Homo sapiens: one gene and its partners. The protein of the gene in region 1 interacts with the protein of each later gene in a pairwise test. Each region holds a gene or a part of one and is shown in the gene's direction. Other genes may lie near its edges.

Region 1 (3,500 bases):
ATAATTTATATACTCTATTTCTTAACAGGTAGTTGTGTCAACTAACATAGCAGAGACGTCTTTGACAATAGATGGTGTGGTGTTTGTGATTGATCCTGGATTTGCGAAACAGAAGGTACATATTTAGTGGATACTTTATAAATTAGAGTTGGTTTAACAGTACTTACAACCAATTCATTTAATGGCTAAAATTTACCTTTCAGAATTATTTTCCTATCTTTTTTTTTATTTGCAAATTTCTGCTGTATGAACCCTTTATGTTTTGGCTGGCTCTCAGAAATTAAGACAGTATTTAATATGTAATTCTAGGCTTTTTTTTCTTTTAGAGTTGCTTTGCTTTCTTTGTTTCAGTGTAGTGACGGTGGGTGTTTTGGCTTGTATATTCATTTAACAGTATGGGTTTAGTAATAAAGTACAGGATTTCTATCCCTGCAGTTCAGTCACTTCTCCCAACATTATTAGAGTTACTGCTGTCAACTAGGCACACTATTTGAAAACAGTACTATGTTACTCCTCTAGTTTAACAGTGCTGTATACTAAATGAAGTGAAATGCAGGTGAAGTGGCTATTCAATAAATACGTTTTATTTTTCAAATATCTTTTGGATAAATTGATTACATTTTGTTATTGATGGAAATTTTTTCATTAAACAGTAACAGAGTAATAGTACTCAGACCGTCGAGTTTTGAAAGTGAAGGTTTCTTTTCGGGCAGAATCCTTGACTGCCCAGCATATAAAAAGCAAGGAACAAGGTCAGCCTGATAGAACTGAAATTAGGAGGAGTAAGGATTATATAAGCTGTGTGTTTGACAAGAAGTTTTTCATGTTAGAGTCTTTCAGATGATCGAATTAGAATGTCTGAAAGAACTTTAAGGTTCAGGATGGTGGGTTGTCTATTGTAGCAGCATGATTTATGGCTATCGATATTTCTTTATTTATTTTGGAATTAACTGTGGGCTTTGGATACTTCTGTTGCATCACAATTTTGTGTTTGACTGAAGAAAGACTCTTGTGTTATTTCAATTCCAATAGGTCTACAATCCTCGAATCAGAGTTGAGTCCCTTTTGGTGACAGCTATTAGTAAAGCTTCAGCTCAGCAAAGGGCTGGTCGAGCTGGACGTACCAGACCTGGAAAATGCTTCAGACTTTACACAGAGAAAGCTTATAAAACAGAAATGCAGGTATGGGGTATTGTCGTTTCCTGCCGATATGTTTAAAATGTTAGGTTGAATTATCTTACCAGAAGAACATTGCCTTATTTACTTAATCTTGCCTTTTAGGATTAAAAGCTCCTTAGCTTTTCCAGGAGTGAAATGTATGGTGTAATTAACTTAGATAGTCGTACACCCCCTTATTCCAGGCTGATACATTCCAAGACCCTCCCCCTCCCACGCCTAAAAACTGGAATATGCTGAACCTTACTTACATATACTATGTATAAATATCTTTCTTTACAATTTCACTGATAGAAGATGCATTCTTTCTTTAGATGTGATTTTTTTGCTCTTTTGTTACTAGGTTTCAACTTTTTTTCTTTCCTTACTAACTTTCAGCGTTTCACTTAAAGGAAGCACTTCAGGGCCTCTCATTGGCATATCCAAATTGCCAGCATCAATATTCTTGGCGCTTTGGGGCCATTATTAAGTAAAAGGTTACTTGAGCACAAGCACTGTGATACTGCAAAAGTTGATCTAATAACAGATGGTTGCTAAGTGACAAATGGGTGTATAGTGTATATAGCATACTACTAAGAATGGTGCACAATTTAAACTTGATGAATTTTTTCTGGAATCTTTAAAATTTTTTCTGTTGACACTGCTTAACTGAAACCATGGAAATTGCGAGTTCAGATGAGTGAAGACTACTATACGAATTTCTTTCTGCAGTTGCGAGTTTTATGGACAGTAGCAAACACTGAATACTATAAAGATAGTTGGAGAAAAATGGTTTCTCTCTAGTCTAGCCTACAAGTATTTATCTCTACTGAGACAGTGTAGAAGTAATGCCAAAACAAATAGCTCAGGAGGCAGCAGATTTTTGTTTTCTGGAACGAGGAGACTGAGGCATTTTTAACATAACCAATAAATGTTTTTGTTCTTTGCTAGGATAACACCTATCCTGAGATTTTGCGTTCTAATTTAGGATCAGTTGTGTTACAATTGAAGAAACTTGGTATTGATGACTTGGTACATTTTGATTTTATGGATCCACCAGGTATGACTTATCAAAACACATTTTTATCAGATCTTTTAACCAAAATTGACTCTTAGTGTTTTTCTCCATCCTATTTAATATATGTATTAAATACATTTTGCTTTTTCCATCCAGTATGCATCAAGATTAAGTCTTACATGATAGCATTAAAACTAAAAAAGGTGACAGTTATATGAGCACATTTTTTTTTTTTCTTCAAAAGTTATTATGGGGGGGTTTGGGTAAATTGAATTATCCTCTGGGCATGAAAATGTGAGAATTCCTAAGTTTTCTTTGGGGAAAAACAGTTTGATAAACACATTGATGAATTAGCAATTATTTAATGTATTTCGGAAGAAGACAGTTTTGCCTACAGGAAAATTTTGCAATGTTTTTATGATTCATTGTTTGCTAGATCTGTATAATTGAATTGGATGACAGTTTGAGTTTGAGTTTGGTCCACTGCAAAATGAAAAATGAGATTGCTTATAATAGTTTGTACTTTGTCACATTTTTGCTTGCTTAAGGCACCGTGTCTAATAGATTGTCTTTTACCACTAGCTCCTGAAACTCTGATGAGAGCCCTGGAACTTTTGAATTACCTGGCTGCTTTAAATGATGATGGAGATCTGACTGAATTGGGATCCATGATGGCAGAGTTTCCTCTAGATCCACAGCTCGCAAAAATGGTTATTGCAAGTTGTGACTACAACTGTTCTAATGAGGTCCTATCTATTACTGCTATGTTGTCAGGTAATAGAGGGAAAGGAACAAAAAAAAGCCCAGCTCTTCAAAGTTTGGGTGGACTTCACTTTTGTTTTTGTTTTTTAATTTTTAGTATGATAGTGGATTTTATAGATGGTTTTAAGGAATTAATTTTGTTTTCTAAATACCTTGTAAATAGCTTCGTAATGACATAGTGCTTACAAAAGTAAAGTAAGTCATTGTGCACAAAAGATAAGTAAAGCATTGGCTCTCTTGAGTGCTAATAAAAATTGCAGTAAGTTTGAGCACAGTTGTAACTGAATTCTTTGGTTAAAGGTCCATCACTGCTATCTTTGTGGTTTTTTTGTTTTTTGTTTTTTACTGCAAGTACAGGAAGAACTTTGCTCTAGTACTTAGCTCTATTAAGTGTGCCTGTGACAAACTGAAAGCTATACATTAAGTTGAGCCTTTTCTATATATGTACTCCAATGGCACCCGAACAAACATGAATTTCAAACTTCATATCAAGTAAATAGAAATAGTAATGTATAATTTTAGGCTTAAAATCTAATCTGATAATGGTATTCTTTTACAATGGTAG
Region 2 (3,500 bases), on another chromosome or scaffold:
TAATCCCAGCTACTTGGGAGGCTGAGGCAGGAGAATCACTTGAACCCAGAAGGCGGAGGTTGCAGTGAGCTGAGATTGTGCCATTGCACTCCAGCCTGGGTGAAGAAGTGAGACTCTGTCTCCAAAAAAAGAAATGTTACCAGTTTTGATGGGCATTTAGGTGGTTGTTGAATTAGTTTAGCAGATACTAGATTGCAGCAGGCTAAAGAAGAATTGGAAATGGAAATGATACTTAGCAGAGAGGGGAATGTAGAACTTTATGGGCCAGGCACACTGGCTTAATTGGGGAGGTCGAGGTGGGCAAATTGCTTGAACAGGACTTCAAGACCAGCCTGGGCAACATGGCGAAACCCTGTCACTACAGAAAATATAAAAATTAGCCAGGCATGGTGGTGCATGCCTGTAGTCCTAGCTGTCTGGGAAGCTGAGGTGGAAGAATTTCTTGAGCCTGGGAGAGAGAGGTTGCAGTGAGCTGAGATCATGCCACTGCACTCCAGCCTGGGCGACAAAGAACTATATGGAGAAAGTAGCAGAAAATCAAAAAGGATTTTGTTTGTTTGTTTGTTTGTTGAGACAGAGTTTTGTGCTTGTTCCCAGGCTGGAGTGCAGTGGCACGATCTCAGCTCACTGCAGCCTCCACCTCCCGGGTTCAAGTGATTCTCGTGCCTCAGCCTCCCAAGTAGCTGGGATGACAGGTGTGCGCCACCACGCCCAGCTAATTTTTGTATTTTTAGTAGAGACAGGGTTTTACCATGTTGGCGAGGATGGTCTCGATCTCTTGACCTCGTAATCTGCCTGCCTCGGCCTCCCAAAGTACTGGGATTACAGGCATGAGCCACTGCGCCCAGCCTGATTTTTTTTGTTTTGTTTTGTCTTTGTTTCTGTTTTTTTTTTTAAAATAGAAGTGTGGAGTCTTGCTATGTTGCCTGGGCTAGACTTGTCCTCCTGGGCCCAAGTGATTTTTCTTTCTTTCTCTCTTTTTTTTTTTTTTTTTTTTTTTTTTTGAGACGTAGTCTTGCTCTGTCGCCCAGGCTGGAGTACGGTGGCACAATCTCAGCCCACTGCAAGCTCCGCCTTCTGGGTTCGCGCCATTTCCTGCCTCAGCCTCCCAAGTAGCTGGGACTACAGGTGCCCGCCACCATGCCCAGCTAATTTTTTGTATTTTTAGTAGAGGGGTTTCACCATGTTAGCCAGGATGGTCTCGATCTCCTGACCTCGTGATCCGCCCGCCTCGGCCTCACAAGTTGCTGGGATTACAGGCATGAGCCACCGTGCCCGGCCCCAAGTGATTTTTCTTGCTTCATCTTTCCATGTAGCTGGGAACATAAGCACACATCACTGCACTTAGCTAAGAATCAAAGGATTTATTTATTTATTTGAGACAGAGTCTCGTTCTGTTACCATGCTGGAGTGCGGTGGCGCAATCTCGGCTTGCAACCTCTGCCTCCTGGGTTCAAGCGATTCTCCTGCCTCAGCCTCCCAAGTAGCTGGAATTACAGGTGCCTGCCACCACACCTGGCTAATTTTTGTATTTTTAGTAGAGACGAGGTTTCAACATGTTGGCCAGGATGGTCTTGATCTCTTGATCTCGCGATCTGCTCGCGTCGGCCTCCCAAAGTGCTGGGATTACAGGCATGAGCCACCGCACCCGGCCACGATTTTATTTTATAGCAATAGTGGGTTTTTGTTTTTTGTTTTTTTTTTGTTTTTTAAAAGAAGATGGGGCCTTAACATTTTTGTAAGGTTAGGTGAAAAGGGTGAATGTAGAGGGGCTTGACTGAGAAGAGTGGAAGATGTAGTGACTTAAGTGAACCAAAGGAAGAATACCCTTTCCTCAGAAGCAAGGAGGAAGGACCTGAGAATAGTTAGGGATATATGTATACCTTCTTGGAAGAGGGAAGGACTTTAGCCATTTTGTTTCAGTATTTTTACCTAAATGTATTTCTCTCAAAGGTCGAGGTCAAGGAGACATTCTCATAGACGTTACACTCGATCCAGATCCCACTCTCACTCTCATAGGAGACGATCTCGAAGTAGATCATATACACCAGAATACCGGCGGCGAAGGAGCCGAAGCCATTCTCCAATGTCTAACCGGAGAAGACATACTGGCAGCAGGGTACGTGGTTTATAAAAGTTAATGAAGACTTATTTTCTCTTTTATGTGTTTAGTCATGGCATATCTTGCTTTTAGGGGAGCTTGGCCATTGTTTAGAAGTGATACTCTGGAAACATCCTTAATAAGCTGCTTTAGCTTTCAAAGTAAAGGAAATGCCACCATCTTTCGTAAGCTTACCATGTTTTATGACAAAGAATGCAAAGGAAGTATATTTTCTTTTTTTTAGACAAAGTCTTACTCTGTCTCCCAGGCTGGAGTGCAGGGGTGCAATTTCGACTCACTGCGGCCTTAGCCTCCTGAATAGCTGGGGTTGCAGGTGTGCACCACCACACCCAGCTAATTTTTGTGTTTTTAGAAATGGGGTTTCACCATGTTGACCCCTCTGGTCTCAAACTCCTGACCTCAGGTGATCCACCTGCCTTGGCCTCCCAAAGTGCTGGGGTTACAGGCGTGAGCTACCATGCCTGGCCGGGAGTATATTTTTCTTTTCATGACGTTTGAGTAAAAAGGACATGAAGGCTGGGCGTGGTGGCTCACACCTGTAATCCCAGCACTTTGGGAGGCCAAAGGGTGTGGGTCACCTAAGGTCAGGAGTTCGAGACCAGCCTGGCCAACATGGTGAAACCCCATCTCTGCTAAAAATACAAAAATTAGCCAGGCGTGGTGGCTTACGCCTGTAATCTCAACTACTTGAGAGGCTGAGGCTGGAGAATCCCTTGAACCCAGGAGGTGGAGGTTGCAGTGAGCCGAGATTGTGCCACTGCATTCCAGACTGGCCTGGGAGACAGAGCGAGACTCTGTCTCAAAAAAAGAAAAGGAGATGAAATTTGGGAAGAAATATGTTCCGGCCGGGCGTGGTGGCTCACACTTGTAATCCCAGCACTTTGGGAGGCCGAGGTGGGCGGATCACGAGGTCAGGAGATCGAGACCACGGTGAAACCCTGTCTCTACTAAAAATACAAAAAATTAGCTGGGCACGGTTGCAGACGCCTGTAGTCCCAGCTACTCCGGAGGCTGAGGCAGGAGAATGGTGTGAACCCGGGAGGCAGAGCTTGCAGTGAGCCGAGATGGCGCCACTGCACTCCAGCCTGGGCGACAGAGCGAGACTCCGTCTCAAAAAAAAAAAAAAAAAAAAAAAAGAAATATGTTCCACGAATTCAAGTGAAAAGCATAAATTGAGTTGGGAATACTGGGTTATATTCAAAGTTTTTTGATGGGGTAAGGGGGTCAAAGAAATATTAAAAACTTTGTAGTAATCATAGCTAACACTTTTATTCAGTACACTTAAAGCTTTTAACATTTCTGTGAGGCAAGTTATGTTATATATAAAAAAAATTGAGTCTTGGATGTATGACATTGAAGGAGTTTTAGTTTTGGTTTT
Region 3 (3,500 bases), on another chromosome or scaffold:
AATTGTCTGTTACTTCAGGTGGGAAACCCTCTCAGTCTGACTCTGCATAGTTATAATACCTTTTCCCCTGATTAAGGAGGCAAAAACGATTTATACAAAAACTCATTGCAATTATATTTATTTTGGAAGGATTTTTAAAAACAAATGGAGTCACAAGCAGCTAAAATTTGAGAGAATGAGCCTTAGTCTTTGTTTTGTTTTGTTTTTTAGTTTATGAGGAATAACAAAAATTAAAACAGAAGAAACCATAGGCATAAAACAAAAGAAGAAACAAATTTTAGTGTCCTTCAAAGAATAGATACAAAATGCACTCCTTTTCCAAAAAGGAACTAAAAGGAAAACAGAGAGGGAACAAACCTTGTATCTCATTGAGTATAGTTTTTTTTTTTTTTTTTTTGGTTTTTTATTTTGAGATAAGAGTCTCACTCTATCACCCAGGCTGTCATGTGCAGTGGCGTGACCTTGGCTCACTGCAACCTCCACCTCCAGGGTTCAAGAGATTCTCCAGCCTCAGCCTTCTGAATAGCTGGGACTACAGGCACATGCCACCGTGTCCAGCTAATTTTTGTATTTTTTTTAGTAGAGACAGGGTTTTACCATGTTGGCCAGGCTGATCTTGAACTCCTGACCTCAGGTGATCCACCTGCCTCGGCCTCCCAAAGTGTTGGGATTACAGGCGTGAGCCACCACGCCCAGCCCCAAGTATATTTTTTGTTAAATGAAACTTTTTGACTAGGTGCAGTGGCTCATGCCTGTGATCCCAACGCTTTGGGAGGCTGAGGCAAGAGGATTGCTCGAGGCCAGGAGTTCAAGATCAGCCTGGACAACAAAGCAAGACCTCTTTTTTTTTTTTGAGACGGAGTCTCGCTCTGTCTCCCAGGTTAGAGTGCAGTGGTGCGATCTTGGCTCACTGAAACTTCCACCTCCTGGGTTTAAGCGATTCTCCTGCCTCAGCCTCCCTAGTAGCCAGGATTACAGGCATGCGCCACCACGCCTGGCTAATTTTTGTATTTTTACTAGAGACGGGGTTTCACCATGTTGGCCAGGCTGGTCTTGACCTCCTGATCTCAAGCAATCCGCCCGCCTCAGCCTCCCAAAGTGCTGGGATTACAGGCATGTGCCACCGCACCTGGCGGCAAGACCTCATCTCTACAAAAAAATAAAAAACTTTTATTTCGGGCCCGGTGCAGTGGCTCACGCCTGTAATCCCAGCAACTGAGGTGGATCTCCTGAGGTCAGGAGTTTGAGACCAGCCTGGCCAACACGATGAAACCCCATCTCTACTAAGAATACAAAAATTAGCCAGGCGTGATGGCGCATGCCTGTAATCCCGGCTACTAAGGAGGCTGAGGCAGGAGAATTACTTGAACCCAGGAGGCGGAGGTTGCAGTGAGCCAAGATCGTGCTACTGCACTCCAGCCTGGGCGACAGAGCGAGACTCCATCTAAAAAAATAAATAATAAAATAAAATAAAAACTTTTCTTTCATTTTCAGAACTTCAGTTGTTTTCTACGTCTAATGCATCATTTTTATTTTCTTCATTAATTCCTCGATTTCTGAAAACTGAAGGTTTGACCATATCAAAAGAGACTTCTCTTCACCTTTCATAAATCTGTAAACAAATGAAGTTACTTACAAATGTGAAGCTGTTTCTGTCACATATTACAGATGATGAAATGAGCAGTTAAGAGCTGTGTCATGCATTCAGCAGAATGGATGCACTTGACAGTCTCCCAGGCCATCATTTCTATAGTCTGTACCATTTGATAGTATCATCAGAACATCAGACCTTAAGTGATGAGTTTACATTTAAACCAAGTTTTTATCCATGTTTAAAATATAAAGGGAAAAAAGGCTTAACTAGACTCCTATTGAATTTGATTATATATTTAGGAAACAACTCAGCCATTGAGTTATAATTTACATGTCTTTATCTGCTAGGAGATTAAGTGAGAGAGAGAGAATTGGAGAATTGGGAGCTCCTGAAGTATGGGGACTTTCTCCAAAGAATCCTGAACCAGAGTAAGTGGTTAAAAAATATATTTTTAAAATGTTATAATATGTGTTTAAATCCTGAATCTATTGTGAAAATGTTTAAGTGAAGAACTTTAAATATATCTCACATTTTTCTTTCTTGTGATTTATGTTCTTCTACCCCTTAAGTTTTAAAAACATAGAACATATCTAAAGATTAAAACATGTTGCTAGTAGGTTTTAGCATAATCTAAAATAATTCCTGGAATATAATTTTCCTATTAATAGAAGGGTTCATTGTTAAATAATACACATTATTTTGAATTATTTTTTCTCAACTAAACTCAGTGGCAGATTGCATGCCAGATATTAACATTACAAAGAGATTTTTTTTTTTGAGATGGAGTCTTGCTCTGTCGCCCAGGCTGGAGTGCAATGGTGCGGTCTCAGCTCACTGCAACCTCCGCCTCCTGGGTTCAAGCGATTCTCCTGCCTCAGCCTCCCGAGTAGCTGGGATTACAGGTGCCTGCCACCATGCCCGGCTAATTTTTGTATTTTTAGTAGAGACGGCGGTTTCACCATGTTGGCCAGGCTGGTCTCGAGCTCCTGACCTCGTGATCCGCTTGCCTCAGCCTCCCAAAGTGCTGGGATTACAGGCGTGAGCCACTGCGCCCAGCCTACAAAGAGATTTTTTAAAACGAATATACCAGTATGGTTTTGTTAATATTCCTATATCCAATACTATCTGCAGACTTAATGCTTTTTCTTTTTGCTTATTTCTTTTCTCTTTGATGCTACTCATAAGTTTCTTCTTCCCTCTCTGTTTCTGTGCCAACTTTAGGTTGAGTTGAGACAATGTGCTTGACAGGTAAACCTGTAATTTGTGATTGGATAATAAAGCATTATTATCTGAAACTTGTTCTTACAGATACCTTTAGAAAATGCTTGAAGAGGCCAGGTGCGGTGGCTCACGCCTGTAATCACAGCACTTTGGGAGGCCAAGGCAGGTGGATTCCTTGAGCCCGGGAGTTCAAGACCAGCCTGGGCAAATAACAAGACTATTTAAAAGAAAAAAAAAAGAAAACACTTGAAGAACCTGAATGTATTGAATTAGAGTTGGAAGGAACCCTAAAAATAGTTTTCTTTCTTCTTTTTTTTTTTTTTTTTTTTGAGACAGAGTCTTACTCTGTCACTCAAGCTGGAGTGCAGTGGTGCGATCTTGGCTCACCATAACCTCCGCCTCCCAGGTTCAAGTGATTCTCCTGCCTCAGCCTCCCGAGTAGCTGGGATTACAGGTGCATGCCACCATGCCTGGCTAATTTTTGTATTTTTAGTAGAGATGGGGTTTCACCATGTTGGTCAGGCTGGTCTTGAACTCCTGACCTCATGATCCGCCCACCTCGGCCTCCCAAAGTGCTGGGATTACAGGCGTGAGCCACTGCACCCAGCCAAAATAATTTTCTAGATAATATTTAAATTACTCCAAGTATGATCTTCAGAGGAAAAGATTATATGATGTGGAAACT
Region 4 (2,971 bases), on another chromosome or scaffold:
GCTGGCACCCTTGACCAGGGTGCTTACGCCACCCCACGACGTAGACAGCCTCCCCCACCTGCGCAAGTTCTCGCCGAGCCAGGTGCCCGTGCAGACGCGCTCTTCCATCCTCCTGGCGGAGGAGACGCCCCCCGAGGAGCCAGCCGCCCGGCCGGGCCTCATCGAGATCCCGCTGGGCAGCCTGGCAGATCCCGCCGCCGAGGACGAGGGAGACGGGAGCCCCGCTGGTGCTGAGGATTCCTTGGAGGAGGAGGCGTCTTCGGAGGGGGAGCCCCGGGTGGGGCTGGGGTTCTTCTACAAGGTGAGTCCCCGAGCAGGTGGCTGGAGGGTCCTGGGCCTGGGGCGGGGGCGGGTGGGGGCGGGGGGAGGTGGACAAACCCACTATTGGATGAATAGGGCTTTACTGAAGGATGGGTGGGCGGGTGGGGGATAGATGGGGAGCCAGGTATGAATGGACAGAACAGGTGTGAGTGGCTGGGTAAGGCCTCCATGGGTGGGAGAGGGGGGAAAGGGACATTTGCACGGTGGGGGGCAGGTATGTGGGGTGACAGGGGCCTCAGATGGGATTTGACCCTGTCTGTTGGGTAAGGACTTCCACAAGGGGCTGTGGGGGTGCAGTGGGGTGAGAGGTCCTCCCCCTGTGGCTTAATGAGTGAGGCCCTCGGGTATGTTTGGGGGTGAGGGGTTTCCAGTGGGGGCTGACCCAGTCATGTCCCTCCCAAACAAGGTATGGGTGGCCGGACAAGGGGGATAGATAGATGTGGGGAGGGGTGGAGAAACAGGGAGGAGTCATGGATAGACAGATGGATGAATGGCTGGTTGCATGGGTGGGTGGGTGATGGACAGATAGACGGACAGGACCAGGATCTTCAGCGCACCTCCTTGCTCATCCTCTCCTTCACCCCCTCGCCCCCAGCACGCTCCTACCACCCCTTTCCTGGCCCTGCCCTGTGTCCACTGTCTCTCCATTCCCATGGCTTTCCCAGCCGGGGACACCTAGGGTTACCTGACTGGCCTCTGCTGCCTGCCTCCATCCCGGGCCATTTTGCACTGAGTGGTCGGGGATTTTGACTGCTCCCCTTACCCTTGCTTTTAGAATGAAAGTCCTCCCCAGGGTGGCCGGGCGCAGTGGCTCATGCCTGTAATCCCAGCACTTTGGGAGGCCAAGGCAGGCGGATCATGAGGTCAGGAGATCGAGACCATCCTGGCTAACATGGTGAAACTCCGTCTCTACTAAAAATACAAAAAATTAGCTGGCGTGGTGGCGGGCGCATGTAGTCCCAGCTACTCAGGAGGCTGAGGCAGGAGAATGGCGTGAACCCAGGAGGTGGAGCTTGCAGTGGGCCTAGATCGTGCCACTGCACTCCAGCCTGGGCAACAGAGCGAGACTCCATCTCAAAAAAAAAAAAAAAAAAAAAAAAGTGAGCACAGCCCAAAGCCCTGGGGAGGACTTCCTTTTCATTTTTTTTTTTTGTTTTGTTTTCTTTTGTTTTTTGTTTTTTGAGACAGAGTCTCGCTCTGTGGCCCAGGCTGGAGTGCAGTGGCATGATCTCGGTTCACTGCAACCTCCACCTCCTGGGTTTAAGTGATTCTCTTGTCTCACCCTCCTGAGTAGCTGGGACTACAAGAGCATGCCACCACGCCCAGCTGATTTTTGCATTTTTAGTAGAGACAGGGTTTCTCCAGGCTGGTCTCGAACCCCTGACCTCAAGTGATCCACCTGCCTTGGCCTCCCAAACTGCTGGGATTACAGGTGTGAGCCACCGCGTCTGGCCTGTACTCACTTCTGACTTAGTCCTGCGCCACTGTCCTCAGCTCTGTGTCCCAGCCACACTGGCCCCCTTGTACTTCCGTGCCCCCCAGTAGGTTTGCTCCAGCCTCAGGGCCTCGGCACTAGCTGTCCCCTCTGCCTGGAACGCTCTGCTCTGTACGCCCACCTAGTTAAATCCTGATCATTCTACAGGGTACTTCCTCTGGGAAGCCTTCCTGGGTGTCTCCAGGCCAGGCCGGGGTCCTCCCGCAGTGTAGAGTGTCTGTGCCCAACACGAGCTTTTGCTGGCACTCACTGCTGTCTGCTGCTTTTGTCTTCCCCGTTGGGTTAAGCAGTGTGTGTGTGAGCGGCACCCAGTGTATCCCATCCCTGTTGTGTCCCAGTACTTAGTGTGGGGCTGTGCATACAGTAGGCACCAACTAAGTGCATTTAGAACAATGATGAAAACAAAAGCACAGGTGGGTGGCGGGCAGGCTGGGTGGAGGGAAGATGGGCCTCCAGCCATGTTGGGGGAGGGGGTGGCTGGCTGGACTCGGCGTCTGTCCCCAGGATGAAGACAAGCCTGAGGACGAGATGGCCCAAAAGCGGGCCAGCCTGCTGGAGCGGCAGCAGCGGCGAGCAGAGGAGGCGCGGCGGCGCAAGCAGTGGCAGGAGGTGGAGAAGGAACAGCGGAGGGAGGAGGCCGCGAGGTGAGGCCGGGCCTGCCCGGGACGCCCGCTCCTTGGCCTGTCTGCCACCGCGGACCCCGTGAGCGGTTCTGATGCCGATTCCCTGTGATCTGCAGGCTGGCCCAAGAGGAGGCCCCGGGCCCAGCCCCGCTTGTGTCCGCAGTCCCGATGGCGACTCCAGCCCCTGCTGCCCGGGCTCCAGCCGAGGAGGAGGTGGGCCCCCGGAAGGGGGACTTCACGCGGCAGGAGTACGAGCGCCGGGCCCAGCTGAAGCTGATGGACGACCTCGATAAGGTGCTGCGGCCCCGGGCTGCGGGGTCCGGGGGTCCAGGTCGGGGCGGGCGGAGGGCCACCCGGCCTCGCTCGGGTTGCTGTGACGACTCAGCCCTGGCACGAAGCCCAGCCCGCGGCCTGCTGGGTGAGGACCCTTGGGGGACGGGGCCTGCCCAGTGCCCTTTCCGGGGCTCACTGGGTGAGGCCCCCATGGGTAAGGGGGGAGGGGGAGGGAGATGTAAGCAGGGGTGCCGGGAGG

The links.
Region 2: the proteins of DHX15 (region 1) and TRA2A interact in a two-hybrid assay, tested with the Homo sapiens proteins (one large-scale study listed by BioGRID and IntAct).
Region 3: the proteins of DHX15 (region 1) and NKAP interact in a two-hybrid assay, tested with the Homo sapiens proteins (one large-scale study listed by BioGRID and IntAct).
Region 4: the proteins of DHX15 (region 1) and CAMSAP3 interact in binary tests that used the Homo sapiens proteins (3 or more experiments, as listed by UniProt).

What each region holds. Positions count from the first base shown.
Region 1 is NC_000004.12:24,539,555-24,543,054, reverse strand, and holds part of DHX15 (ATP-dependent RNA helicase DHX15), read left to right. Parts: intron 1-28; coding exon 29-115; intron 116-1,032; coding exon 1,033-1,182; intron 1,183-2,106; coding exon 2,107-2,215; intron 2,216-2,755; coding exon 2,756-2,947; intron 2,948-3,500.
Region 2 is NC_000007.14:23,514,982-23,518,481, reverse strand, and holds part of TRA2A (transformer-2 protein homolog alpha), read left to right. Parts: intron 1-1,953; coding exon 1,954-2,119; intron 2,120-3,500. UniProt on the Homo sapiens protein: Sequence-specific RNA-binding protein which participates in the control of pre-mRNA splicing.
Region 3 is NC_000023.11:119,937,252-119,940,751, reverse strand, and holds part of NKAP (NF-kappa-B-activating protein), read left to right. Parts: intron 1-1,941; coding exon 1,942-2,022; intron 2,023-3,500. UniProt on the Homo sapiens protein: Acts as a transcriptional repressor. Plays a role as a transcriptional corepressor of the Notch-mediated signaling required for T-cell development. Also involved in the TNF and IL-1 induced NF-kappa-B activation.
Region 4 is NC_000019.10:7,612,863-7,615,833, forward strand, and holds part of CAMSAP3 (calmodulin-regulated spectrin-associated protein 3), read left to right. Parts: coding exon 1-301; intron 302-2,320; coding exon 2,321-2,460; intron 2,461-2,555; coding exon 2,556-2,857; intron 2,858-2,971. UniProt on the Homo sapiens protein: Key microtubule-organizing protein that specifically binds the minus-end of non-centrosomal microtubules and regulates their dynamics and organization.